Linked DNA regions of Homo sapiens: region 1 is linked to region 2. Evidence: fine-mapped QTL for protein levels in blood plasma. A gene starts in region 2. The other region holds a variant in brackets. All regions are shown on one strand. Distances are from middle to middle. Region 1 overlaps RANBP3 (RAN binding protein 3). Region 2 holds the start of CAPS (calcyphosine).

Evidence for each region. A credible set is the group of variants that fine-mapping cannot tell apart. PIP is the posterior inclusion probability: the model's chance that the variant is causal. Protein levels are from antibody-based Olink assays in UK Biobank. Linkage for the fine-mapping came from a reference panel and not from the study's own genotypes, which makes the PIPs less certain.
Region 1: its variant is the best candidate, but not a certain one, in a credible set for the plasma level of the CAPS protein (UK Biobank, PIP 0.57).

What each region holds. Positions count from the first base shown.
Region 1 is chr19:5,929,602-5,945,681 of GRCh38, reverse strand. RANBP3 (RAN binding protein 3) reads left to right here. Exons shown (of 17, transcript NM_007322.3): 4 at 3,847-3,883; 5 at 3,975-4,061; 6 at 12,203-12,268; 7 at 13,138-13,230; 8 at 14,151-14,278. Among named protein-coding and RNA genes, the nearest start is that of CAPS, 23 kb to the right of the region's middle. RefSeq lists an enhancer at 564-1,204 and a silencer at 5,728-5,908. The variant C/G (reference allele first, on the strand shown) is at 8,454.
Region 2 is chr19:5,910,614-5,923,381 of GRCh38, reverse strand. CAPS (calcyphosine) reads right to left here and starts at 9,128. Exons shown (of 5, transcript NM_004058.5): 1 at 9,073-9,128; 2 at 8,893-8,997; 3 at 8,642-8,819; 4 at 8,236-8,442; 5 at 7,171-8,161. The coding sequence starts at 8,975. The coding sequence ends at 8,060. It overlaps VMAC (vimentin type intermediate filament associated coiled-coil protein), which reads right to left. Exons shown (of 2, transcript NM_001017921.4): 2 at 12,529-12,768. It overlaps RANBP3 (RAN binding protein 3), which reads left to right. Exons shown (of 17, transcript NM_007322.3): 13 at 79-188; 14 at 2,061-2,181; 15 at 4,744-4,886; 16 at 5,402-5,588; 17 at 5,729-7,243. The coding sequence ends at 5,772.

The DNA of each region.
Region 1 (16,080 bases), 21 kb before region 2:
CTGAAGGGAGAAATAGTCGAGTCAACCGTAAGAGTTGGAGGCTTCGGTACCACACTTTGAGTAATGGATAGAACATCTAGACAAGATCAGTAAGGAAACAGGACTTCAGCAACACAAAAACCAAGCAGACCTAACAGACATATAGGTCACCCCACCCAAACAGTGGGGTACACAGCCTTCTCAAGTGCACATGGAAAATTCTCCATGGGGGGCCATTTGTTAGGTCACCAAACACATCTCAAATTTTAAAGGATCAAAATATGGAGTATGTGCTCCAACCACAAGGAGATAAAATTGGAAATCAAAAACGGAAACTAGGAAATTGACACATGTGGAAATTAACCTAGATAACCACTGAGCCAGAGAGTTAGGTGTGGAGATGTCAGGAGAAACATCCCGTGCAGGGGTGAGGAGACACGAGGGAGCTCGGGGACCAGTTCCTTCTGTAAGGCCGGACTCAGGTCTTCGGCTTCTCCGTGGCCTGCAAGGGGCCTGGGATGCAGTGTCTTTTGTTGAACAAATGCTAAACGGGCTTCTACTGTGAGGTCCAGTTCCTTCCTAAGTCTAGTGGAGTCCCTGACACAACTCCCAGGATCAGAATAAGCCACAGAGAAAGAGTATAAGGGGCCTGGAGGTCACCTCACCAAGGGGTTCATTCTCGCTTGAGGGAAAAGGAGGGCGTCACTGGATGAGAGAGCAGGTCGTCTACAGAGGCCAGAGAGGGTATGGCCATCTCCTGGTCCCAGAAGTCATTTAGGAAGGGACAGATCCCCCAGGACCAGGGAGGACACCGTGTAAGGGTTTTGGTACAGTTGAAAGGCTCGTTGGATTAAAAGGGGAGAGAAAAGTCTAGAGCCACAGGATGGGACTTGGGGGTGGGGATGTCCTGGGCCTGCTGTTAGGAATGGATGGGAGGACTGGTGAGGCCAGGGAAGCCAGAGGTGAGGCGAGCAGTGCGGTGTCCGAGGAGATCGGGCTGTGCAGAGGCTGCTGGCCTCAGACAGTGACCTGCACAGAGCATTTGGAGGCCAAAGCCAGCCTACAGGGCTCTGGAGGGCATGGGTTACCCAGAGGGCAAGGAGGCTGTGTCAGGTGTTGTTTCTCACAGCTGCCTGTGCTGGGAGGCTGATGTAAGGGCCCGTCGAGGGCAGTAGCTGCCCCAGGCATGAGATGCCCAGGCTTGGCTGGATGAGCAAAGGTTTTGGCTGCCCGGGTGGGCAGATGCTGCTTCTCTGTACTTCTGTCACCTTTGCTAAGTATGAGGGCAAGCGATAGCTGGAGCCTGTACCCACCCCACAGATGTCACCCAAGAAAAGGGATGACAAGGTGGTGACAGCTCAGCACTATCAGATGCAACCCCAGGCTCTGGCATTTCTAGAAAGGTTCCCAGTCCAGGTCCCTCGCCTCCTGGCTGCACCCAGGACTCACTCCACACCCCTGACTCCCTATTCATGCCTGCCTTGAGCTCTAAAGCCCTGCCCCCAGCGTAGCCTCCAGATTTTACATCGGTTGGGAGTTTGATCTCATCAGGTGTGGGTCACGAGCATTATAATCATCTGCTCCCAGCGTGCAGGGCACTGGGCTGAGCACCTTACCTGCCCTGCCTGTCACCTCACGCATCCCTGTTTTCCAGGTGAGGAGACCGAAGGCTGGGCAAGGTAAGGTTTCACCCGTAGAAAATGGCAGAGCCGGAATACACTGAGTTCTTCCGGCCTTCAAGAGGCAGCAGGGACCAGGCAGCCTCTGCACCCCTCGTGCTTTTGGCCTGGCCGGAGTTGGTACTGACTCTAGGGCCTGGCTGCTTGATGGCATTGCGTTTTGGACTCAGTGGTATTTTCACAATTGCCCCAGTGACTAATAGAACCCACTGTTGTGTTACAAGGATTTTGTGTTTCCCACACACTTTGATGATGTCATCTCGTGGGGATAGTGATAATCAGCCCTCACTCGTACAGTCCCTTGGGAGCATTTCCAAAGCCCCCTCAGAACACGGGCCTCAAGCAAGAAGCCCAGGCTTGCTTTTCCCACACAAACCCATGTTGTCAGCTCACACGGGAGGAGAAAGTCCAGGGTAGCTTTTTTTCTGACCGTCGTGAACGAGCTATGTGACTTCAAGTCAACTTCCTACCTTCTCTGGGCTCTCACTGCCACAAGCTCCAGGCCTGGGCCTGTAAGCTAAGATGATGTTTACATTTTTAAAGGATTATAAAAGCAAAAACAAGAATATATGACAGAGACCAAATGTGGCCCACAAAGCCAGCAGTACCGACAGTCTGGCCCTTTATGGGAAAATGCATCGCCCTGACTTGAGGGGGGTCTGCCTTGGCTCCTGTGCTCCTCAGTTTTATTTATTGCAGTTTGCTTTCCCAGGCCACTCTGCAGTTTGCAAAGCACTTTCACATGCATCACCTCCCCTAAGCCCCAGCAGCTCGTCGAGGCAGGCGGGCCTCATTTGGCTAAACTTGACCTCTGAGGAGCATTTTAGAAAATAAGAAAATTGGCTTTTCTGCTTGCTCTTGCAGGGAGCGCGCCAGGAGGAGCGGCCCTCACTCATCGGTGCGCTTTGGGCTGCTAAATTCTGAGACAGGACATAAATGAGGGATTGTGTTGGGGGAGAGGATAAACACTCCTCATGTTAAGTTTTGAGTTTGTTTGTGTTTTGAGATGAGATGTGTCCTTCAGGCTGGGGTGCAGTGGCATGGTCATAGCTCACTGCAGCCTCAGACCCCGGGCTCAGGTGATCCTCCTGCCTCAGCCTCCCTGGGAGCTGGGGCTACAGGCATTCACCCCCCTGCCCAGCTGATTTTTATGTGGTTGGGTTTTTTATAAAGACAGAGTCTCACCATGTTTCCCAGGCTGGTCTCAAACTCCTGGGCTCAAGCGATCCTTCTGCCTCAGCTTCCCAAAGTGCTGGGATTACAGGCATGAGCCACTGCACCCAGTCCATTTTAAGTCCTTTTGTTTTTTTTTTTTTTTTTTTTGAGACAGAGTCTCGCTGTGTCGCCCAGGCTGGAGTGCAGTGGTGTGATCTCGGCTCACTGCAAGCTCCGCCTACCGGGCTCAAGCGATTCTTGTGCCTCAGCCTGTAGCTGAGATTACAGGCGTGCACCACCACGCCCAGCTACTTTTTTTTGTATTTTTAGTGGAGACAGGGTTTCACCATGTTGGTCAGGCTGGTCATGAGCCCATTTTAAGTCTTGGTTGCTGGTTGTTCACACTCTAAAGCTAAAGTTTGTGGAATAGGGAATTCTTCAGGAGCCTTCCCTCAGCCTGTGACTGGGCTTTGTCTTTGATGGTTCTGTTCTAAACACTTCGCAAGTGGGCTTTGGTCCAAAACATCCAAGCTCTTGCTTGCTCTGGGAATAACAGCCGACCCTGAGACAAGCATGTGCATGGTAGAATGTTCCAGGGCAAGGAAGGGAAATCGCTCCTATCCGGTGTGATGTGACCATTTTACACAAGTCCGCTGCCCTCAAGGGTGGAGAGGGTCGCTTTTCAGCTCTTGGCAGAATGAACGGGGGCCAGATGAGGTTCGGCTGTGTTTGAGTTTAGGGGTGGCAGGCCAGTTAGCGTAACCTGTGGAGAAACAAGAAACTGATCTGGGTGCTGCGGATGCTTTCCCAGCCACTGAGAGGATTCCTTGGCATGTGTTTGTGAAGCTGGGTGCAGAGGTTCATCGGGGGGATGTTTGAGCTTTAGGCTAAAATCCTGGCTCTCATTCGGGTGCTGGGCTCTGGGAACTAGCTGCCCGTGGTGCATGTTGGGATATTTGTTACGGCCCCGAGAGTTGCTCGGCTGCCGTGAGCCTGATGCCCTCTGACCCCGGCTGTGTGCTCCTTGTTTCAGAGGTCAGCTGGCGGCTCCAGTCCTGAAGGCGGAGAAGGTAAGGAGCTCTCTAACACCTTTGACCATCTTCAGTTTTAAAGACAGAAGCAACCTGATTTTTCTCCTCCTCTTCTCATCATTTTCTGTAGATTCTGACAGAGAAGATGGAAATTACTGCCCTCCTGTCAAGCGAGAAAGAACATCCTCTTTAACCCAGTTCCCACCCTCACAGTCAGGTAAAATATGCAAACTTACGGAATGGTGAAAGCGTTTATGCTTACAAACCCGCCATTCCCCTCAGTGCCGCGCATCCGTCTGCTGTGTCCTTCCTGCCCAGCTCCGGTTAGAGTCGATCTGAGGCTCGGGCTCTGTCAGGAGTGAGGTGAGAGCTTGTCCAGAGTGCAGCATCAGGGGTCCTCGTCTCGAATCAGTGACACTGACGGCATGGTGAGACTTGGTGGCCTGAGGAAGACTGTGAAGAGATCGTCCCTCTGAAATGGAGGAAAGGGGTTGACTACTGAGAGCCCTGTTGGGGCCTCTGCCTGTTAATTACATCTCCTCTTTCCAAGGCTGGACACAGACTGGGGGTTTAGGGGTGGGGTGTTCTCCCAACCCCTCAGCTGCATGCCCAGCACGGGCAGTCCAGTGCAGTAGCCCAGACACACACACGCATGTACACACAAGCATGCACACACACACGGTAACCAGCAAGCCAGGAGGCCCCAGCAGAGGCCCGTGTGTGATGCTGTGAACTCCCAGAGGAGAGGAGCTTGCGGGGGCCTGGAAGGGTGGGCCAGGCTCGGACTGTGGAGCAGGGCAGGCTAAAGGGCTTGAAGGCCCTGGACGTGAGGCCTGGTCTGAGCACAGGCCTGGAGGTCGGCCTGGGGACTCATGCAGGCTGGTACAGGAGAGAGGTTCCTGAGGCAGATAATGCCGTCAGCACTACTTAATATAACACTCAGAAAGCCCGGCCTCCTGCCATGGGCACAACTCTGCAGATTTGAGGGTAAATGCCACTGCAGGGCTATTCTCTCGTCCCCGTCTTGACTTCCCACTCTGGCATTGTCTCGTGGCCTCTGTCTTAGCTGTCTGTAGTGCCAACTTGGACATACATGAGTGTTTAGACAGGTTCTCTGGTTACCCAACTGAAATCCATTCCTGGAAAGTTCATGTAAATCATTTTACAGTCCTGAACCTTCAGGATGTCAAGTTGTTTCTGCTTACAGAAGTCACGCATGCGTTACAGGAACACACAGCGTAGGAAGCCAGGGTCCTTCCCAAGTCACCCCTCCACACCCTTGTTTTCATGCCCTTTTCCCATCACGTTGGTTTTGGACATGGCCGCGTCTTTTTGCACAGCTGCATTAGGTTTTCCAGTGCTATTACACTGTCATCTGCTGACTGGATATTGCGGAACTGTCCAGATGGCTTGCAGTCCAGGCTGCAGTTGGCATCCTTTTAATTTAAGGATCTTTGCACCTGTGGATAGGTGTTCTGTGGAATGAGGGAGCTCCACTTCCTGCTCGTTGATTTTATTCCTTCCCCCTCACTGCCCACTGCTGAACCATGCTTGCTGTATCGAAAACCAGCATAGAGAAGAGGAGGTGTTTGGGCTGTGAATGTAGGCTAAAGAGGCGAGGGACCACCATTCTTCTCCCCGGCCCTCTTCAAATCACCTCCCGTCCAGCGCAGCAGCCCCCAAGAGACACTCAGCTCTCCAGGGTAACTGGAGGCGTGAGGGGCACCAATAATTTGAACAGTGTTGTCTTTGGTTCCATTCTGCGTAGAGTGAGTTCTTCCCCTACGAATTCCACTTCATTTGTGGAAACCTGTTGGCTGGCCCACACCCTGGGAAGCAGTTGCCCTGGTGAAGGAAGATCTTAGGTGGGGGAGGGGGAACCCCATGGACAAGCCTTGACAGGTGAGGAGGAGTCAGGGCCTCCAATGTGGCCTGGAGCATCTGATATCTCCCCTGCCGGCTGCCCCTGCAGAGGTGCAGGGACAAGGGGGTGCCCCCAGTTGACCAGAGTTGACTGTAGTCATCAGACAGATCAAGGCCGTCGGGCTGGAGACCCTCGTAGTGCTGTAAAGAGTCTTGGGGTTTGCTGTTCTCGGGAAAGACTGAATGCCCTGTTTGCGTGCTGTTCCGTCTCCTCCCGTGGGACGTGAGAATCCACCCCTCAGGTGGGAGAGGTGATCTCTGAGCGTCCACCCCACCCATTCATGCTGTTTTTCCTCTTGTTCCCTCCCCCGCCTGCACCTCCTTGTCAACAGTTTCAAAAAACAATGTTTTTATGCCATCAAGCTTCTGCGAGCCATCTGCAGGCAATTCCGACTCAGAGCCAAGTGAGCCCCGGCCCCTCTGCCTTCCCGCCCGGCCTGGGGGTTCTCCTGGGAGGAAAAGCAATTGGTGTGGGAAAATCAGATCTTCAGCGGGCATTTAAAGTCAGTTCTTCTTCAGCTGTTAAAATTTTTCCCCCAACTCTTCAGCTCATAGTCTGGGGATCTGGCGTGAGATGAGGCTTCATAAGCCCTCATGTTTGTTTCTGCAAGCAGGGCCTGGTTGCATGGAGCTCTAAGTCCTCTAAAAACAACCTGTGAAGAAATGTATCACTCATTTTTCAAAATTTTATACAAGTAATGCATTCATAATTGGGGTTTTTTGGTTTTTTAGACAGACTTTCACTCTTTTTGCCCAGGCTGGAGTGCAGTGGTGTGATCTCAACTCACTGCAACCTCCGCCTCCCGGGTTCAAGTGATTCTGCTGCCTCAGCTTCCCGAGTAGCTGGGATTACAGGCGCACACCACAATGCCGGGGTAATTTTGTATTTTTTTAGTAGAGACAGGGTTTCACCTGTTGGCCAGGCTGGTCTCCAACTCCTGACCTCAGGTGATGCACCTGTCTCGGCCTCCCAAAGTACTGGAATTACAGGCATGAGCCACCGCACCTGGCCCATAATTGTTTTTTCTTTAAAGTAAATCAGAAATATTTCAACTAAAAAGAATCCCTGCCCCTTCCCCACTCACCCTGCCATCCCAAAGGTAACGCCTGTGAAGTTGGTGAATTTCTAGACCTCTTTTTTGTGCATTCTCACATTAATTTTGCTCAGACCTACCTAGATAAATATGTTTAATCACAGCTTCAAAACTTTTTGTGTGTTTTGGAGACGGAGTTTCACTCTTGTCCCCCAGGCTGGAGTGCAATGGGGCGATCTTGGCTCACTGCAACCTCTGCCTCCTGGGTTCAAGCAATTCTCCTGCCTCAGCCTCCCAAGTAGCTGGGATTACAGGCATGTGCCACCATGCCCAGCTAATGTTTTGTATTTTTAGTAGAGACGAGGGTTTCACCGTGTTGGCCAGGCTGGTCTCGAACTCCTGACCTCAAGCGAGCTTCCCGCCTCAGCCTCCCAAAGTGCTAGGATTACAGGCGTGAGCCACCACGTCTGGCCCCCAGCTTTAAAATTTTAAGGAAAGCCGCTCCCCCTTTCTGAAGAATATGGAGCCTGCCTTTTTGGTCTTTCACTGGAGAACCAACTCCAAGGTTTCCTGAAAGTTTCTCCCACGTGGCTGAAATTCCTCATAAAAGATTTAACAAGCGAGTTTAACAACCTGAATTCTGTAACCCAACCTACCATATATAAATTCATTGCCGACTTCAAAAGCATTGTGAGATAAGTTAGCTGCTGGCGTGATGTCCGTGTCAAGGGAAGAGGTGGGTTCTTATAACTCTCAGCATTGAGTTGATGGCCCCGTTTCAACAAGGCATTTTGACTCTAAAAGCAAACTGTTTTGAGCCGACCACCTGGTCTCATCCTGCAGAGGGGCTTGGTGTTTCAGGGTCCTCAGGAAGGGCACGATGTTGGTTATTCCTGGGGTGTCGCTTAGCAGGTGGTGGTCTGGATGGGGGCACAGAGCCTGCCACGGTGAGGCAGGTTCTGCTTTAGGTGATCAGTTACTAAAGCCGTGTGTCTGGACCCATTTGTGCTGCTGAGCTCTGTTACAAATCTCATGATCGCTTCTGAGGTCTGTGAGCAACGGCCTCCCTCCTGTCTCTCTCCCCACAGACCTTTCCCCTCCAGCCTCGAGCAGGGCAGCTGTTTCGCAGGCCCCGACGCGGCATGGTTTAAAGCCCCAGTGCCCTCACGCATGAAAAGGCAGTCATATCAGCCACACATCAGTTCTGCAAACCCAACTTCACATCCTTGTCTGCCTGCCTTCTGTTTTTTAGCTTTAATTTTGAAAAGCTTTAACACTTACAGAAGAATTTCTCTGTCCCTTTTGTCTGAAGACCCCATTTAGCTTTCTCCAGTCAGCTCCATGAGTCCATTAGAAAAAAGGACTGAGACCCTGGTCCTACCACACATACCTCCACTTTTATCGGGAACAGGTCTTCAGGCTTCCCTTGACTTTCATGACCTTGAGGATTACAGGTCAGCTGTTGGGTAGAAGTGTCTCAGTTGGGGCCTGTCCAGTATGTCCTGGTGGTGAGACCCAGGTGTGGCATCTTGGATGAGAATGTCACAGAAGCCATGCACAGTACTCACTTGTCCCCTTACCAGCACGGGGTGGCCGTGCTCCTCGATCAGGGTGCTGTCTGCCAGGTTTCACCACTGTAAAGCTACTTTCCC[C/G]TTTGTGCTGGATGGTTTCTGAGAGACACTTTAGACTCTGGGACTGTGTGTACCTCATCACACTCCTGCCCTCCAGTGTTCGCGCCCAGTGATGTCTTTAGAGTGATGTTTCCCGCTGACGACTGCCCCATGGGATTTTCTTCCTTTTTTTTTTTTTTTTTTTTTTTTTTTTGGAGACAGAGTCTTGCTCTGTTGCCCAGGCTGGAGTGCAGTGGCACAATCTTGGCTCACTGCACCCTCTGCCTCCTGAGCTCAAGAGATTCTCAAGCCTCAGCCTCTCAAGTAGCTGGGATTACAGGCACTCACCACCCGTGGGATACTCTGAGCACCATCCCTGCCGCGTTGATTAGTGGTGTTCACTGGAAGGAGGAGCTTGCCCTTCTCCCCACGTGCTTGTTCCTTGATCGATTGTGTCAACATAGACAGGCGAGCTTCTGTTGGCATCAGTGGGTGACCGTCTATGGTTACTGGTTTTTATTTAATGTTCAGGTTGTCCCAGATTTGGCCAGTGGAAGCCCTGTCAGGCAGGTCCCCGTTGTTCATTTGAGCACTGCCCTTACTTTGTCACAACAAGAGCCTCCCGGCTCAGCCTCTTTTCTCATCCCAGTCCTGGAATCTGCATTTCTCAGAGGCACGCTGGTTCTTCAGGGAACATGGTCTTTAGAAACCAAGGTCTGAAATCACTCCGTGCGGTACTGCGATCTCACTGACTCAGGTGTAGCCCTGCTCCCGGCCCTCCGCGGACAGAGCTGGGGACACACCTTTGTCCACATGATCTCTTACTCTCTGCCTGCCTGCCTGCCTGCATGTGGAGATGACGGACAGAGCTGGGGACACACCTTTGTCCACATGATCTCTTACTTTCTGCCTGCCTGCCTGCATGTGGAGATGACGCCAGGGGCACGTGGGTGCCTCCCTTGGTATATTCCTCCCTCTTCTGGCACTAAGAAACCGGCACCCTCTGTCCTCTGTGCATCAGGCATCACTCCCTGCCCACCGCATGGCTGAGCCTCCTCCCCACCCTGCACCAGCGCCGTCCACGCACAGACCCCAGCTCCAGCCAGGCTGCCTTCTCAGCATTTGATGCACACAGTCTCATTCCCATCCCTTCCCTGGTTAAATCGGGGCTCCCTGGGGGGCAAGCATGGCTTCCCACAGACATCACTTGGGGCTCTCTGAGGCAGGCGAAAAGCACCCTCAGACAGGGAGCCTGCCAGCTTCCCAGGAGGGCAAAGGCTGCCGGCGGGAGGGGTCCTCTTCCTCTCTGGAGTGATGCGCATCCCTCAGAGACTGGTGCAGCATCCTCTACAGGCCCACACCCTTTGGGTATGTGGCAGGCGTCGGGCTCTGGCCATGATTCAGCAGCTTGTGTTGCGACCTGTGTTGCAGAAGAAAATTTCTGGAAGGAATGAGAAGAGACCACCCTTGTTTTCGTGGAGCAGGGCCTGTGACAGGGACCTCCAGATTTTGGCTACCCCTGGAGCACGCCTTGTCTGTCTGCAGCTCTGGAGAGGGCCACGCTCTGGGCCTAGCACTAGTGGCAGGTCGGTGGCAGGGATTATCCAAGTCTCCTGCTTCCGCTTGGCAGCTCGGGCCAGCCCCCAGGCTCCCCTCAGCGTTAGCGCCAGCGCTGCACGGAGCGGAGTGTGGAAGGGCAGTAGTCAGTCTGTGACCAAAACATCAGCGTGGAGAGCCAGCTTGAAGAGCTTGCTAAAAACTATCTAAATTGTGAATTTGACCTTTTAAAAATGTATCTAAATTGCCAGTCGTCTTCTGCATAGCTCCGTGCTTTGGAAATGTAATTGAGTGTTTCCTTCGGAAAAGGAACATCTGGCGGCTCACCCCCGCATCCTGCAGGATCTGGCTCTCCTGAGTTTGTTTTTTTATGACCAGTCTGTTACGGGAGAGGCACCAGCTCTGCTAACACAGGCTGCCAGAAGCCCCTGGGGCTGGACTCCCTCATACAACTATTATAGTAAGAAGGGTTGCTGCAATCCTCTTGCTGCCCAGGCACAGCGGCGCCTCCGGGGCACAGCGGGAGAGGGGTCTTCCTTGGCCTGCTGAATCTTGATTTGGAGTCTGAAAATTTGGGCTGACAAGGTGTTTTGGGTTTTGTTGTCATCGTTTTAGTGTACAATTGAGTGGTTTTAGTACATCCACAGAGTTGTGCGACCATCACGTGATTAATTTTAGAACATTTCCATCATCCCAAAAAGAAACCTCATCCCTGTTAGTCACAGCCTGCCCCCAACCCCCTCCCTTGAGCCCTGGTAACCGCTCAGCTCCTTTCTGCTTAGTCTGGCATTTCACAGAAATGCAATCAGACAGCATGAGGGGGTGTTTTTCTTTTGATTTACACCTTTAATTTCTTCCAACAATGTTTTTGTTTTGTTTGAGACAAGGTCTCACTCTGTCGCCCAGGCTGGAGTGCAGTGGTACAGTCGTAACTCAACTGTAACCTCAAGCTCCCAGGCTCAAGTGATCTTCCCACCTCTGCCTCCTGAGTAGCTGGGACTACAGGCATGTACCACCATGCCTGGCTAAGTTTTTAATTTTTTGTAGAGTTAGGGTCTTGCAGTGTTGCCCAGGCTGATCTCAAACTCTTGGGCTCATGCAGTCCTCCTGCCTCAGCCTCCCAAAGCACTGGGATTACAGGCATGAGCCACTGCACCCGGCCCTAACATTGTTTTATAGTTTTATCTTGTGAAATGTATTCCCAAGTATTTTATTCCTTTTGGTGTTATTGTAAATGGAATTATTTTCTTAATTTTGCTTTTGGGTCATTCACTGCTAGTGTTAGAAACACAATCGATTTTTGTATATTGATCTTGTGTCCTGTAGCTTGACAAGGGGGTGAAGCTTAGCACAAACGCAGGGCTACCTCCAGGAGCCATAATGCCACAGTCTCTGTGCCTTGCCCAGGAACAGGCTTGCCTGCCTGAGTCACAGGCCTTTTATGACAATCCTTCCTGTTGTGGATCAGATTAGACCACCATCCCCACTCCCTGTATGGGCACAGTTGCCAAGACACACAGATGAAGGGGTCCATGTGGACAGGTGGCTGGGCGAGGCTGGGCTCTCGAGCCATCCCAGGAGCTCGTGGGCATTCACCTTTCCCTCTAGTTTTGTGAATTTGTCAGCCCGGACTCTGGCCCAGGGGGAGCTGGCCTCCTCCACGGTGGCCAGGAGTGCCCCCTCACTGAGACGGGAAGCTCCGCAGGCACATCTGGAAAGGGGAGGCAGGCTCACTGTGTGCCACCTTTGACCTTTTCATCACAAAAACCTGTCTCACTTCCCAGACATCTGTAGTGGTGCCAAGGTTCTTCCTGGCCACAGCCGCATCCTCTGACAGACAAGCCTTCTAGGAAAGGGAAGTGGGGCCTGAGCGCCTGTGTTCCGTGGCTCCCTGACATTCTCCAGAGCCAGGTACAGGGCCGCTGAGCAGCTCGGCTCCTGAGCCTGCAGCAGGTCATAGACAGCTGGGAGGGCGGCTGACGCCCCACCTGCCCCCATGGTCAGCAGCTGGCCCAAGAGCCATCGTTCCTCCTGCCCTTGTCTCTCCCCTCCTCCAGGCGCCTTCCAGGCCTGCTGATCGGACGAGACTTCTGTTGTAATTTGGAAATGTTCTCCCTGGTTCTCCAGGCCCGAAGTCACTGAGGCCAAGACCATAGTCCTCTCCTGCCCTTGCCCCCCAGGCCCAGCCCCAGCCCAGGCAGGCCTGCTGTTGATATTTTGTCTTGTGCTTTTAGAGGAAAGGAGCAGTGGCTTCCGGTTGAAGCCACCAACGCTGATCCACGGCCAAGCCCCCAGCGCAGGTAGGTCGTCTACCTCCCTGGGGCGGGGGGTGGCTCTCTGACGTTTTTCAGACCTCTGCTAGGCCACACCAGGGCACCGCGGGCTCAGCCTGCTTTCTAGAAAGATCACTTGTAACTTGACCCACGAGCCCTGGAAAGTTCCTTTAAAGAGAGGCTGTCTGAGCAGGGAGGTTGGGACCCCTGACTGTGAGCGTCGTGTGTTCAGAAAAGTGGGCAGTGGTGGCACGGGAGCAGGCTAGGCGGGGTGCATCGGGCGGGCTCCATGCCCAGCAGTAGCGCACTTGGTTCAGCCTGTCTGTCCTTCATGTTCTGGCCCCCACATACCACAGTGTTCGCCCCAGTTAGCAGGGTGGCTGCATTCCAGCGGCGCGCTGCTAGTGAGCCGGCTGCTAGTGAGGCTGCCGGGGATGCTGCACAGGGCAGGGCACATGCAAGGGTCCTTGTCCCATCTGCCTTTGGCAGAGGGACTTCCTCAGCATGGCTGTTTTGAAAAACAGGTGCAAAATGTGCCTGTACGTGACCCCACACCGAGTCCTGAGCCTCCAGGTAGCTGCCTGTGAATGCACTGCTCTCCTCCCACAGTCTCCACTTGACTGTTGAGTCTGCCGGCGCCCCGCCACGTTACTGTGCTAACTGGATTAATTCACAGGCGTCGGTCACTGGGAGTTTCATGTAATCACATGTAAAAATAACAGTAGCCAGATCTCCTGGCCAGCTGTTAAAAAAAGACCTCAAGTTTTTAAAAAAGTGCTTCCCTGCAAAGTCTAGCCTGCAAGGGGCATGAAATGGGATGCCAGGGGTCAGTCTCTGAAGCGCCTGGGGGCAGGCAGGGGTCCACGGGCACTGGGAAGGCCGCCTTCTGTTCCTAGGTCTGCCAAGCCAGAAGCCCAAGGAGCAGCAGCGGAGCGTGCTTCGCCCGGCAGTGTTACAAGCTCCGCAGCCAAAGGCGCTGTCCCAGACTGGTAAGAAACAGCAGCCCTGGCGCCCAGGCCCAGACGGCAGGGTAGAGCGTTCCCGAAGTCGCACCCGGGACAGCAGTGTTGCGACAGAGGTGACTGCTGAATGCACCAGAAATACAGAGAGATCAGGGAAGATGATCCTTTAAATCACCCCCCAGCCGTCTCCAGCCCCAAGCCTCCTGAGCCCTGGCAACGGAGAAGGGAGAGGCGGCTCCACAGCTTCCTCACAGCTCTCGGCTGAGTGTGACTGTGTGGGTGAAACCTGCTTTGTTCATTCACTGTCTTCATAAAAGCAGGCCGGCTCCTGGGAATGAGATTTATCCCTGTGTGTTTGCAGATAGAATTTCAGCCTCAATTTTCACAGGTTATCTTTAAAAACTTGAAAGGTCATTTTATTTATTTATTTATTTATTTATTTTGGAGATGGGGTCTTGCTCTGTCACCCAGACTGGAGTGCACTGGTGCAATCATAGCTCACTGCAGCCTCGAACTCCTGGGCTCAAGCGATCCTCCCACCTCAGCCTCCCAAGTAGCTGGGACCACAAGTGTGCACCACCACACCCAGCCAGTTTGTTTTATCTTATTTTAGAAACGAGGACTTGCTGTGTTGCCCAGGCTGGTCTCAAACTCCTGGCCCCAAGCATTCTCCCCGCTTCAGCCTCCCAAAGCACTGGGACCACAGACATGAGCCACTGTGCCCGGCAGGTTTCTCTTTTTTGTTTGTTTCTCTTGTTTTTTTTTAAATCCAAGAATTTTGGCTCTTTGTAGAGATACCAGGTCCTTCCTTAAAAAGGAGACATGTGCTGTGGGCTTTACCATGGGAGGGGCCCTAGACTAGACGTGGCCCAGCCCCTCAGCTATGTGAGTGGGGGTGGGAGGGCCGCCAAGCACCTGTGATTCCCCACTCTCCTTCCCTCCCACAGTCCCCAGCAGTGGCACCAACGGGGTCAGCCTCCCAGCAGACTGCACGGGGGCAGTGCCCGCAGCATCCCCTGACACTGCTGCATGGAGAAGTCCTTCCGAAGCTGCCGATGAGGTGTGTGCACTTGAGGTCAGTGGGTCCTGAGGCAGGGAAGCGCTGCATGCTAGGCCCCTTGGGAGCGGGAGGGCAGCCTTCCCAGCATGCTGTGGAGTCCACACGCTGTCACCTGTTCCAAGCAGTTTCCACGTGGGCCTATTGTAAGGCTCTCTGGATTTGCTCAGTAGGCTCTAAATAACAGTACCTGACAAACCAGATCTAGATTCCCAAGGGTGGTCTTGCTGGTCAGGCAGAAGAAGAGTGTCTCCCAAGCAAGCTCTGCCGGAAGGACCTGTTGCCCAGAGTTCTGCCGGAAGGGCCTGTTACCCAAGGCTGACCGCCACATGTCTCACGGGAGTGATCCTTGAGGGAGGACCTGAACCACTGCACTCTGAGGAGTCACTAGGGCCCGAGGAACGGCTGTCACTGATGGGTGTCTTGCAATGTTTAACATGAGGAATGTCTCCCCTCTCTGTGTCCACACCCAAACCACCCCTCAGAGACTCCTATCTGTGTGGTTCCAGTTGAAAATTTTTCTTTGGGAGTCATCTCAGAAATAGTTTGTTTAGGCCGGACACGGTAGCTCACACCTGCAATCTCAGCACTTTGGGAGGCCGCGGCAGGTGGATTGCTTGAGGCCAGGAGTTCAAAACCACCCTGGGCAACATAGCAAGACTCTGTCTCTACAAAAAATACACAGATTAGCCAGGCATGGTAGCATGTACCTGTAGTCCCAGCTACTCAGGATGCTGAGGCTGGAGGATTGCTTGAGCCCGGGAAGGGGAGGCTGCTGTGAGCCGAGGTCACACCACTGCATTCCAGCCTGGACGACAGAGCCAGACCCTGCCTTAAAAAAAGAAATAGTTCCATTTAAGCGGGGGTATGGTTTGGATTATATGGGCCAAAAGCTTTGTGTTTCACAGCCACTGTGAAATAAGGGCCTTTGATGAAGAGCCTCCTTTGAAGTTGGCAGAGATGGGTTTGAAGTCAGAATTAGGGTAACACCATGTGGTATCTTCTGTGTAAAAGCCAGATTGGATCTTTGTGTTTATTTTCCGCTCTGTGTCCATGGCCTGCAGTTTTATACCCTCCATCCCCAGTAGATGTTCTGGCTCAAAGGGTGAAAATGGCTGTCCACAATTAAATTTGAAAACATCCTCACGCCCTTTTTCAAACGAGTTTGCTGAATTGGAAATAGGGATCATTTCCACCGCATTCTGCGGCTTGGAAGCTTTGACTGCTGAGGTCTCCTGAGCAGATCAGGTGTGCAGTTCTGAGTTGGAGAAGGACTTAGAAGTGACCCAGCCCGTCCCGCCATCTCCCAGTGTCTCTGATTGTCCCCGATGGTGAGTGCACAGGCTGACCTGGTAGCACCCGCTACCGAGAGCTTGTTCCTCACTGGAGAGGCCTTGCTGTGTCCCATCCCAGGGGACGGAGTCCGTCTTCCTGCCGGTTCCAGCCCCTTCTCAGCAGTGCACACAGCTTGTTCCCAAATGGTTGAGCTCAGAAGTTGTGATGTGCTGGCTGCCATTCCCAGCTCCTGCGTCTGGCTCCAAAGCCACTGCTCCATGTGGGTCTGGGGTGGAGCCATGCGGCCACACCCACGCTGCCCTCTGACCACACCCAGTACTGTTGAGATTCGCCAGGCTCGCTGTGTGTATCCTTCTCTGGCCCTACAGCAGGAGTCCGAGCTTTTCCAAGCCGCCCATGAACATGGCACACACTGCTCATCGGGAACGTGAGCTATGAGGCATCTCCTCTAAGGAGGGCTTAGATGTTGGGGGCGACCCATGGGGGAACTCCTGGTACCGTCTTTGGGAAAGTGGGGAAGAGGC
Region 2 (12,768 bases):
CATCTCCTGTCGGATGAGGGGAGATGGCTCTCCTCTCGCCAAATAATCAGTCAGTCTTTTTGGCCAATAACTTTTCAGAGTCCCTGGCTGAGTCGGCAGCCGCCTACACCAAGGCAACAGCGCGGAAGTGTTTGTTGGAAAAAGTGGAAGTCATCACCGGGGAGGAGGCGGAGAGCAATGTGTTACAGGTGAGGGGCCGGCCCCTCCTCGGTGGCCCTGGGTCTTCCATGCACCTGGGGGTCCAACCGCAAGGGCTGGGCCCACATCCTCTGAGCACACAGGCCTGCCCCTGAGATGACGGAGGGGCCACTGGCCCCACGCTCTGGGACTTTGTTGGTGGCGTTTGTAGAGAGAGCTTAGGCTCAGGGGCTTCTTGCATGTCTTTGGTTTCAGAGGAGGAGGATCTGTTTGAGACATTCTTTGTTTTGTTTTAATTTTTTTTGAGACAATGTCTTACTCTGTCACCCAGGCTGGAGTACAGTGGCACAGTCTCGGCTCACTGCAACCTCTGCTTCCTGGGTTCAAGGGATTCTTGTGCCTCAGTCGCCTGAGTAGCTGGGATTACAGGTGTGCACCACCACGCCAGGCTAATTTTTGTATTTTTAGTAGAGACGGGGTTTCCCCATGTTGGCCAGGCTGGTCTCAAACTCCTGACCTCATGTGATCCACCCGCCTCGGCCTCCCAAAGTGCTGGGATGACAGGCGTGAGCCACCACGCCCAGCCCGAGACATTTTTGATGGTTCAGGGAATGACAAAGACTGTCATACCAAACATATTCTCTTGTCGCCCAGAGCTGGCAACTGTATTATTTGTCACCTGGCATCCTGTGGTGTCTTCGTAGGGAAAAGATCAGGTGCGGCCAGAGGTTCCACCCCACCGTCCCCTCCTGGCATCCCCCATTCCTGCTCCTCAGGCCGCACCACCCGGCTTGGGCAGCATCCATGTGCTTCCTCTCCCGTGGCACATAAGCAGGTGTCTGTGTCTGTAAACCGGGTGGCGTATCGTGGCGTTCTTAAGAGCACTGTTCTTTTTTCCCACTTACCACTTTGTCATCTGTTCATGTTGAAAGAGATTGACTTAGGGGGTATGTGGAAAGCCATGTAGGGGTGTCTGTCTCGTATTTTTCTTTGTTTATATATACAAAACTGCTGTATTGAAATATAGTACAAATGCTATATAATCCATCCTTTTAAAGCATACAATTCCGTGGTTTCTAGTATATTCACAGAGTCAGACAACTTTCACCAGAATCTAACGTACAACATTTCTGCCCCCAAAAAGAACACTGTCCCATTCCCCCAGAAAGAGCATTGTCCATTCGCAGTAACTCCTCCTCCCTCCCCAGCCCCTGGCAGCCACAGATCCACTTCCTGTCTCTGTTTTTTGCCTGTCCTTGACATTTCATATAAATGGCATCAACGCACTATGTGGCCTTTCGTGTCTGGCTTCTCTCGCTGAGCCAGAGGTTCATCCACGTTGCAGCGGGGGTCGGAGCCTTGTTCTTTATTAAGACTGAGTGAGATGCGCTGTAGGGGCGGACCATGTGTGTCACTCCATTCCTCCTTGAGACTTGGCTACCGTGAATGATGGTGCTGTGCACGTTCATGTGCGATCTGTGTGTGAACACGAACAAATGTTCCATTTCTCTTGGGTACATACCGAGGAATGGAATTGCTTGGGCATGTGGTAATTCCTTGTTAAGCAGTTTGAGGAGCCGCCAGACTCTTCCACAGCAGTGGCACCATGCGGCCTTCCCGCCAGCAGTGTGTGAGGGTTCCAGCTTCCCCACATGGGTATAGCCGTCCTAGAGTGCGCAGAGAGGCTTCTCACCGTTGTTTTGCTTTTCATTTCCTTAGTGATTCTTTTAATTTCAGATACCCCTTATACAATGTAAAGCCTGTTCTAGCTTGAGGGCAGGACAAAAAACTGACCAAGGTGGCCCCCAGGCCGTCGTTGGCTGGCCCTGGCAGTCCCCACAGGCTAAAGGGCGACTCTCAGGGTGTGGCTGCAGCAGGACACCAGCTGGGGTCCCTGCTTACCGGCGGCCACTGTGTTCCAGATGCAGTGCAAGCTGTTTGTCTTTGACAAGACCTCACAGTCCTGGGTGGAGAGAGGCCGGGGGCTGCTCAGACTCAATGACATGGCGTCCACCGATGACGGCACACTACAGTCCCGACTAGGTGAGCTGCCGACGGCGGGGGCTGTGGCCGGGTCCCCATGGGGAGGGCTGGGGACTATGCAATTCCAAAGGGAATGAAGCGGGGGAGATCCTGACCCTACCCTTGTGAGAGTCAAGGCACAGAGTCGGTCTCCCATGAGAGCCGCCCCCCAAACCCCCTCCCTGCACCCAGCCCTCAACACCACCCTCACACACTGGCTCCAGCTGCCAGCTCGTCCGTGACCCTCTTAGTGTCAAAATGGACAAAAGTCTATGGAAGTTTTTAAGCTGATTTTCTGACAAAGTGGCAGGTTTATGATAGAAAGGAAAATGAAATCAAACATCAAGTCTAATCTCTTGATAAAGACAAATTTTGGCCAGGCGCAGTGGCTCACGCCTGTAACCCCAGCACTTTGGGAGGCCAAGGTGGGCGGATCACCTGAGGTCAGGAGTTCAAGACCAGCCTGGCCAACATGGCAAAACCCTGTCTCTACTAAAAATACAAAAATTAGCCGGGCATGGTGATACATGTCTGTAATCCCAGCTACTCGGGAGGCTGAGGCAGGAGAATTGCGTGAACTTGGGAGACGGAGATTGCAGTGAGCCGAGATTGAGCCACTGCACTCCAGCCTGGGCGACAGACCAAGACTCCATCTCAAAAAAAAATAAAATATACTGTTTTTGAAAAGCTTTCATGTTAATATTCCATTGACAGTCAATGGACTTTTCCCTATTGGTGGACATTTAGCTTGGAGTACCTGCATACACACACCCACTTAAGGAAATCAGCCTGTGTGTGTGCACATTTGAAATGTGGGCGTGTCTTTTTTTTCCTTCTAAAGCTGATTTCACTCCATCACCCAGGCTGGAATACAGTGTGATCATCGCCTCAAATTCCTGGGCTCAAGTGATCCTCCCACCTCAGCCTCCTGAGTAGCTGGGACTACAGATGCACCACCACGTCTGGCTAATGTTTTTATTTTTGTCTTTATAAAGACAGGTCTCCCTGTGTTGCCCAGGCTGGTCTTGAGCTCCTGGCATCAAACAGTCCTCCCACCTCAGCCTCCCAAAGCGCTGGAATTACAGGCGTGGGCCACTGCGCTGGGACCATCTTTTTGTTTTATCTTCCCAAATCAAAGTGTCTTCTGGCCTTTTCATAAATATGGGTTTCAGGCCCAGCAGTAACTCAAGCAGCCCCCTTGAAGGGTAGTGTTCATGCACTTCAATCAGAAACACTGCTCTGGTCAGAACAGACAGGGGATGTCCCTGCAGGCTGGGACTGCTCTTTTGTTCCCCATGGACGTCTTTTTTTTTTTTTTTTGAGACGGAGTTTTGCCCTTGTTGCCCAGTCTGGAGTGCAGTGGCTTCGTTTCGGCCCACCGCAGCCTCCACCTCCCAGGTTCACGCGATTCTCCTGCCTCGGCCTCCCGAGCAGCTGGGCTTATAGGCACCCGCCACCAAGCCTGGCTAATTTTTTTATACTTTAAGTAGAGACAGGGTTTCTCCACATTGGTCAGGCTTGTCTCGAACTCCTGACCTCAGGTGATCTGCCCACCTAGGCCTCCCAAAGTCCTGGAATTACAGGCTTGAGCCACTGTGCCCAGCCTTATGGACGTCTTCTTGTGTTTTTCCTTTTGTCTCGTGGAAATGTTCAAATGTCCATGGAAAGAGAGGGCATAGAGCCCTGAGCCCCCAGGTCATCCCCTCTGCCTGGGTCATCAGCCTGTAGCCCCGTGGCAGCAGTACCCTCCCCAGCTTCAGGGAGAGCAAAATCACCTCTGTCTTTCTCCCACTCGGCCTCTGAGGTGGGCACCTGGGCTCAGGGAGGTCTGTTCGCTGGGCCAGGGCAGGGGGACAAGTTTCTGACCGTCTCCAGGCCTGCTCCAGTGGGGAGAGGCGGCTGGCAGGAAGGTAGGGGCTTGGCTGAGTCCACGGGGTGGGCCCAGGCCAGGCGCAGGGGTGTTGCATCCTCTAGAAGAGTCAGGGCCCTCCCATTTTCCTCCGTAATCTGCTGCCCACAGTCCTCTCGTCTCCTCTCCATGGAAGCGCTAAGCTGCGGTCCTACTCTGCCTTCTCCTAAGGAAACCAGAGGGCAGGGCTGGCCCACTCAGGGGAGGCCAGTCAGGAGGACGTGGACTCCCATGGAGGCCGATGTCTCACACACACAGAAAGCGCATGCACCTTGAGTGTCAGCCCCTGCCTCCCGCAGCCCACCCCGTACTCCTCTCTAATCCCCCCTTCTCCAAGGGAACTGCCATCCTGGTGCCCACCTGTGTGGACCAAACACAACCTCCCACAAGCTGCATGTGGCCTCTGGTCACTGATCTGCAGCACCAGCCTGTGCAGCCACCTGCAGTTGTGGCCTTCAGTGGTCCAGGCTTGGGGAGGAGGAGCCCCGCCCCGGGAGCAGGTGTGCCAGGGCTGGCCTCAGGGAGAAGTCTTGCTCTGTGGGTGGGTCCTGGGAGGATCATGGGCTTTTGCGCGGTGATGTCGCTTTCCATCTGGACTGTGTTGGCTCTTGGAGCTGGCTGTTTGTGAGGGGGCCGGTGTGGGGGCCAGGGCTGAGTGGCCTTGTTGGTTGTAGTGATGCGGACCCAGGGGAGCCTGCGACTGATCCTCAACACCAAGCTGTGGGCCCAGATGCAGATCGACAAGGCCAGCGAGAAGAGCATTCGCATCACAGCCATGGACACCGAGGACCAGGGCGTGAAGGTCTTCCTGATCTCGGTGAGCCAGCCACGCGGGTGCATCTGGGACCCCTCATCCTGCCAGCCCTGTGGGGGTTCCTGGGCACACAGATCAGGCAGGACGGTGGGGAGGGGAGGGGGGAGGGGCTTCAGTTGCTTCCTGGGACACAAGAAGCACTATGGGACCCGCCAGTCCCAGCCTTCAGGAATAGAGATCATGGTCCTTGTCCTCTTCTCAACCCAGAGAAGCCGCTGGGGTTTGGCTGAGGGGTTGTGATGTGTTCAGGGCTAACAGCCCTGTGGGGCGGTCACCTCTCTCCTATGTCATGGTGTCACAGTCGAGTCCACCAACCCTGACCTCTGGGATATTCCCAGCCACCTGGGAGTGGTGGCATCCTTTCGGGGAGAGGCCGGCAGGCCCAGGGCCAATGGCCTCCCCACAAGGCCTTGTGGCAGTGTCACCTCTGAACCTTGGGACTTGGCACTTGTGTTCTGCAGAAGGCAGGAGGGGGTAGGACTGGGGTCCGGGGGTCTCATACCCTCCTCCCTTCCCAGGCCAGCTCCAAGGACACAGGTCAGTTGTATGCAGCCCTGCACCACCGCATCCTGGCCCTGCGCAGCCGCGTGGAGCAGGAGCAGGAGGCCAAGATGCCCGCGCCTGAGCCTGGGGCAGCCCCATCCAACGAGGAGGACGACAGCGACGATGACGATGTCCTGGCTCCTTCAGGGGCCACCGCAGCTGGTGAGTCGGGTGGTCCCTACCCTGGGGGGGATAGAAAGAGCTGCCCGCCATCCTTGATCCAGTGCTGATCTCCTGGCGGGGGTGGCCAGACCTGGGAAGTGCGGGCTCCATCCTGATGCGGGGCTGCTGCTTCCCTGCAGGTGCTGGTGACGAAGGGGACGGGCAGACGACCGGGAGCACATAGCGGCCGGGAGCCCGGCTGCACACCAGGCTGCTGCTTTGTCCGTCTATCCACCCGCCCACCCGCCCCCACCCCACCGGCAGCGTCCAGGTGCGGGGCCGGGAACCACACACCCCACTGGGCCGGCCACAGTCTGGACCCGCACGTCCTGTTCAAAAGCAGACTCGGGAACTGCCTGAATGTGGTTTGGGACACGAGACCTCATCATATTGATGAGCGAACAAACAAGAACATTTCCTCCCTCCCCTCCTTTGAATTGAAATGGCACATTAAGACTTGTCACGGCTTCTCACTGGGACTGGAGACCTCGTTCCTTCACCCCGCGTGTCGCCAGCCTCTGGGTCCAGCCAGAGCCCCTGGCTTCTCCGCCACCCACACCCTTCCCACCCTGCTGTGGGGCCCTGCCTTTGTGGGGAGCAGCCAGCCCTCTGCCCCTGCCCAGGGCTCCCCAACTATAGGCCTGGGACCCCCGCCCAGCTTGGGGGGCTGCTCGTACGAGTGTAGACACTGGGCCCATTGGACGTGCTGTTAACTACTATCTTCATTTCCCACTTCCCCTCTCTGATTGGGGGTGTATATTTTACATCTTTTTTTCTTTTTATTTTCGAAGGCTTTGTTTTGGTTTCTTAGGTTAAGATGCTCTCGAGCGTTGAGCAGGCACAGCTCTGTCGAGGTCCCTGTCCCCCACCTGTGGTTCTGGCCTCTGAGGTTGGGGGACTACTTGTTTCCCACCCCAGGTTCCTCCAGGCCAAGTCATGGGGTGATGAGGAGTTGGGGCCCTGTCTGTCCTAGGCCTGGAGAGTGCCTGTCTGGGAAAAGGTCACTGGACCTGGAAGGGTCCCCAGGGTCCCCTGACTCCCGTCTCCATCTGTCACGTGGTTCACCATCATCAGGCACCAGGCGCAAACTGCTTCCCGCTGTTGGCCATCCCTTCCCCAGCCACAGGTGTCCCTGCCCCCAGGACAGTCCAGGGCCAGGGGCTTCTGTGAGAGGCAGAGGGGGACCCTCACCAAATCTTGGTGGAAGAGCCCAGGGGCTGGTCCCAGAACAGGCAGTCTCACAAGCACGCAGCACACTGGAGTGGACGCCTGTGCCCACCCGAGCCTGGAGCATGGCCAAGAGCCAGCTTGCACCACCCACCTGGGAGGCCGAGGAGGAGGTCCCCTGGGCACAGGGCCTCTTTGGGACTTCAGAGGAAATCTCCCAGTCCCACTCTCGGAGGGTTAAGAGAAGGCCTCCTGCAGCTGTGCCGTCCACACCTCTAGGTCGCCAGAGCCCTGGCCCCCAGCCCCCAGCAAGCCTGAGCCCGGGAAGAACCAGAGGCCCTCCCGAGAGACCCAGTCACACGTCTCTGCTTTAAGCCTTAGCCAGCTAGTGACGAGTACAACGAGATAACGCCCATGTGTTTTGGAACATTTATGTAAGATTGTCATATGAAATGTATTTGGGAACTACATTAAACTTTTAACTAAAACCCTGGCCTCTGCATGCCCCAGGGGCCTCAGGAAGCCCCTGACCAGGAACGGCCTCCACCTCCCCGGGCGAGGACCTCCAGCAGCCTGGGGCCTCATGCTCCCACCCAGCGTGTCACCAGTGCTGGGGTCCAGCCACAGCCCTGTTCTCTCCACCACCACCCGCACTTTACCCCCACCCCTGCTGCAAGGCCCCGCCGGTCTGCCCCCGCCCAGAGCTCCCAGCCTCGGGCCGCTCACCAGAATGTAGATACTGGGCCCGCTGGACATGTTACCTGCTATTTTTATTCCCCATTTGCCATCTTCTGATTGGGGGTTGATGTTTTACAGATTTTTTTTTCAAAGGCTTTATTTCAGTTTCTGAGGTTAGGATGCCCCTGTGCCCCTCGCTCCACACCTGGGCAGGTCTAAACTTCCTTCCAGGATGGCCTCCACACACAGCCTCCCACCTGGGGTCACCTGGCTTCCTGGGGGACCCGCAAGGGAGGGGCAGGGAGCAGCAGTCCGGGTGCGGGGATCGGGGGACCTCGGCGGGGGCATCCACAGGGGCTGCAAGATCTCTGGTCAGCATGGCGTGGGTGGGGAGAGCGTTTCTCCCTGGGGTCCTGAGCCAGTGACTCCTGTTAGGACCTTTGTCCCACCTCCGCCTGGTGGACCGGCAGGGACCTGGTCTAGCCAGTCCTGCAGCCTCCATTCCCCCACCTGCCCCTCCCCGCTCTGTGGTGTGGCTGCCCAGGAGAGAAGGGGCCCAGGGAAGGGAGGTCTCCGGCAGGGGTGGGGAGTGACAGGCCAGGGCAGCAGGGCTGAGCCGGAGCTGCTCACAGCTGCCAGGCACTGGTCATCATGGCCACGAACTCCTCATCCGTGTTCATGGAGGCACTCACGCCGCTGTAGTAGTCCTGGAATTCCGCCAGTGTGACCTGGGAACAGAGGGCCGTGAGGGGGCACGGCCGAGGAACTGCCTGGGGAGGGGGCCCCCCGCGCAGCCACCCACCTGCCCGTCCTTCTCAGAGGAGTCGAAGTTGTCCAGGAAGCGGCGCAGCACCTCGTCCTCGGTCCACTCCCCACTGCGCACCTTGGGGTGGGCACGGCCACTGTACACCCCGCGGAGGTCGTCCACCGTCACGACGCCGTCCCCACTGCGGTCCAGCTTGGCAAATGCAGCTGCGATGACAGCCTCCCGGGCCTGGGACATGGGGGGCTGGGACAGGAGGTGGTGACTGGGGGTGGTGGGTAGCACACCCAAACCCCCAAGACGCTGTGCAGAGCACTGGGGCTGTATGCCCCAGCAGGCGCCTCTTAACAGCAGCTCTTAGGGAGGAGTCCCCGTCTCCGCATCTCAGCATCCTCTGTCGCCCCATGCCCAGGGCACACGCCTTGACTGTGAGGTGGGGGCTCACCCGCAGCGCCCGAAGGAACTCCTCCAGATCCAGCGTCCCGCTGCCATTGCGGTCCCACTTCCTGCACACACCCTCTGCCTCCGCCTGGTCCAGCACCAGCCCGAGTTTGGCCAGACCCTGCCGGAACTCATCAGCGTCCAGGGATCTGCTCCCGTCCCGGTCTAGTTGGCGGAAAAACCTGGAGGCAGGGGACACGGTTGGAACAGTGGTCTCAGGGGCCGGGGTCAGGAAGGTGAGAGGGGACAGCTCACCTGGCCAGGCCCTGGATGCCCGAGGCCCCGCGGGACAGGCACTGTGCCCGGAGTTTCTCCATGGTGGCATCCACGGCGTCCATGCTTGGTCTGGGCTCTGGGCAGCTGGAAGGGAGAGAGGTCAAGGTGGGGACTCCCGCAAGCCCACCCTGGCCGACTGCCCCTTGTTCAGATGCTCACCTGGCCTGCGTCTGTCCCAGAGTCCTGCCTGCGGGGCCTTGTGTTAGCTGTGTTGTGCCTGGGGAGACTGTTGCTAGTGGAAGGTGCCTCTGGAGATGGGGTGGGGCCCAGCTGCATGAATGCACTGTGCTGGGCAGTGGGGAGTGGGGGAGGGATGGGTGCGCCCAGCCTGACTGCTTACTCAACTGCCAGCCCCACAGGGCCTGGGACAGAGCCAGATCCCTGTGGCACTGCATCCCTTCCTGGCTCCAAGGAGGAGGGGCAGGCCACTGCCCTGCAGGGGCTGAAATGCCCTGGATGGAGACAAGTCCGTGGCTGGGGAGGCTTGACGCATGATTCCTGTGTGACCCTGGACAGGTCCCTTTCCCTCTCTGGCTTCACAGGGGCTTCTCAGCCCGAGCCAGGGCTGACAAAATTGCTGAGGAATCAAAGTTCAAAAGGGCCCCAGGTTCTGACCGGCCACTGCGGCTCATGCCTGAAATCCCAGCACTTTGGGAGGTCTAGGTGGGAGGATCACTTGAGCCCAGGAGTTTGGACCAGCCTGGGGAACATATAGAGAACTTGTTTCTATTGTACAGCAACAAAAATGCCCCAGGTGGGCTGGGCGCGGTGGCTCATGCCTGTAATCCCAGCACTTTGGGAGGCCGAGGTGGGCAGATCACAAGGTGAGGAGTTTGAGACCAGCCTGACCAACATGGTGAAACCCCGCCTCTACTAAAAATACAAAAATTAGCCGTGCATGATGGTGGGCGCCTGTAATCCGAGCTACTTAGGAAGCTGAGGCAGGAGAATCGCTTGAACCCAGGAGGTGGAGCTTGCAGTGAGCCAAGATTGCACCACTGCACTCCAGTCTGGGCGACAGAGCAAGACTCCATCTCAAAAAGAAAAAAAAAAAAAAAGCCCCAGGTGGCCCAGGTCCTGGGGCCCTAAGACCTCCCACCCAGGCCCACCTCCAAGGGCAGGTCCTGCAACCCACAGAGACTGAGCTGAGCCTGAGGGACACCTCTGCTCACTGCCACAAAGCTTGTCACTGGCCGTTGTTAGGAGCCAGTCCCAGGATTTCTGTCTTTACGGATCTTTTGTTGTTGGTTTTCAGGCCTGAAACGTGACTTAGTGGGCTGGCTCCTGACAAGGTGGTGAGCCAGAGGTTGTGACCCCGAGTGGAAGAGCAGCCCTGATCCTGGACATAAACCTCAAGAGACGAAGCCACCTCACTGAAGGCCTTCAACGGAGACATCGGATATACCTGCCCGCTAAGATAGGTGGGTTTTCCAGGACTTGAAACGTGGGCCCTGTTTGAGGACCCACTGTTCGCCCCGACCCAAGGATCATCAATCGGAGCCTTCTCCAAGCCTGGCTTTACCTCGCTCACAGCACAATTATATTGTCAGAAGTTGCCTTGCCTGAGCGCGGTGGCTCATGCCTGTAATCCCAACACTTTGGGAAGCCAGGGCAGGAAGATCACTTGAGCCCAGGAGTTTGAGACCCGCCTGTGCAACATAGTGAGACCCCCCCATCTCTACAAAAACTACAAAAAATTAGCCAGGCATGGTGGTGTGTTCCTGTAATCCCACCTACTTGGAAGGCTGAGGCAGGAGGATCACTTGAGCCCGGGAGTTGGAGGCTGCAGTGAGCTATGATCGCACCACTGCACTCCAGCCTGGGTTACAGAGCAAGACGCCCGCCTCTTAAAAATAAGTAAATAAACTGGCCGGGCACGGTGGCTCACGCCTGTAATCCCAGCACTTTGGGAGGCCGAGGCGGGCAGATCATGAGGTCAGCAGTTCGAGACCAGCCTGGCCAACATGGTGAAACCCTGTCTCTACTATAAATACAAAAATTAGTCAGCCGGGTGCGGTGGCTCATGCCTGTAATCACAGCACTTTGGGAGGCCGAGGCAGACAGATCACCTGAGGTCAGGAGTTTGAGACCAGCCTGGCCAACATGGTGAAACCCTGTCTCTACTTAAAATACGAAAAACTAGCTGGGCGTGGTGGTATGTGCCTGTAATCCCAGCTACTCGGGAGGCTGAGGCAGGAGAATTGCATGAACCTGGGAAGCGGAGGTTGCAGTGAGCCGAGATCGTGCCATTGCACTCCAGACTGGGGGACAAGAGCAAGACTTTGTCTCAAAAAAAAAAAAAGAAAATTAGCCAGGTATGGTGGCGGGTGCCTGTAATCCCACCTACTCCAGAGGCTGAGGCAGGAGAATCACTTGAACCCAGGAGGCAGAGGTTGCAGTGAACCAAGACCATGCCACTGCACCACAGCCTGGGCGACAGAGTGAGACTCTGTCTCAAAAATAAATAAATAACTTAAAAAAAGAGGCCAGGGCTGGGCGCGGTGGCTCACAGCTGTAATCCCAGCACTTTGGGAGGCTGAGGTGGGCGGATCACTTGAGGTCAGGAGTTCAAGACCAGCCTGGCCAACATTTTGAAACCCCATCTCTACTAAAAAAAATAAATAGCTGGGCATGGTGGTGCATGCCTGTAATCCCAGCTACTCAGGAGGCCAAGGCAGGAGAATCACTTGAACCCTGGAGGCAGAGGTTGCAGTGAGCCTAGATCACACCACTGTACTTCAGCCTGGGTGGCAGGGTGGCAGAGCCAGACTCCGTCTCAAAAAAAAAAAAAAAAAAAAGTTGCCTTTGGAGTCTGAAACCAATCTGTAGGTTACAGGCATCCCAGCATCTTGATTCAGGCCACCACTGATGTAACATCATCAGTTTTATGAGAAATCATGGTGACATCTGGCTGCCAAAATCCTGGTGGCTCACTGCAATCCAGAATTATTTAAATAGGCAGAGAAATACTTTCATGTCTATGAGTGTTACAAGCAGCATTTTTTTTTCTGTGTAGAGAACTATAAAATATAACCACTATTACTGAAGTGCTGTTTTGGCATCTCATTTGTAAATGTTTAGTAAGAATTTCTTGGGAGGCCAATGCGGGAGGATCACTTGAGGCCAGGAGTTCAAGACCAGCCTGGGCAATGTAATGAGACCTTATCTCTAGAAAAAATGCAAAAACGCAGCCAGGCATGGTGGCATATGCCCATGGTCCCAGCTACTTGGCAGGCTGAGGTAGCATGATAGCTTGATCCCAGGATTTTTTTTTGAGACGGAGTCTCCCTCTGTCGCCCAAGCTGGAGTGCAGTGGTACAATCTCGGCTCACTACAGCCTCCATCTCCCGGGTTCAAGTGATTCTCCTGCCTCAACCTCCCGAGTATCTGGGATTACAGGCACGCGCCACCACACCCGGTTAATTTTTGTGTTTTTAGTAGAGACGGAGTTTCACCATGTTGGTCAGGCTGGTCTTGAACTCCTGGCCTCAGGTGATCCACCTGCCTTGGCCTCCCAAAGTGCTGAGATTATAGGTGTGAGCCACTGGCCCAGCCAAGACCAGGATTTTGAGGCTGCAGTGAGTTGTGATCACACCATTGCACTCCAGCCTGGGCAACAGTGAGACTTTGTCTCTTTAAAAAAAAAAGAAAGAAAGAAAGAAAACAGAATTTCAGCAATAACTTCCCCCAGAATTGGAAGTGGCCCTGGCCCTCCAGACCCGGAGTGTGTTCCCTTCACACCTCTGGGCCTCTGTTTGTTGTTGTTGTTGTTGTTGTTGTTGTTGTTGTTGTTTTCTTTGAGACTGAGTCTCACTCTGTCTCCCAGGCTGGAGTGCAGTGGTGCAATCTCCACTC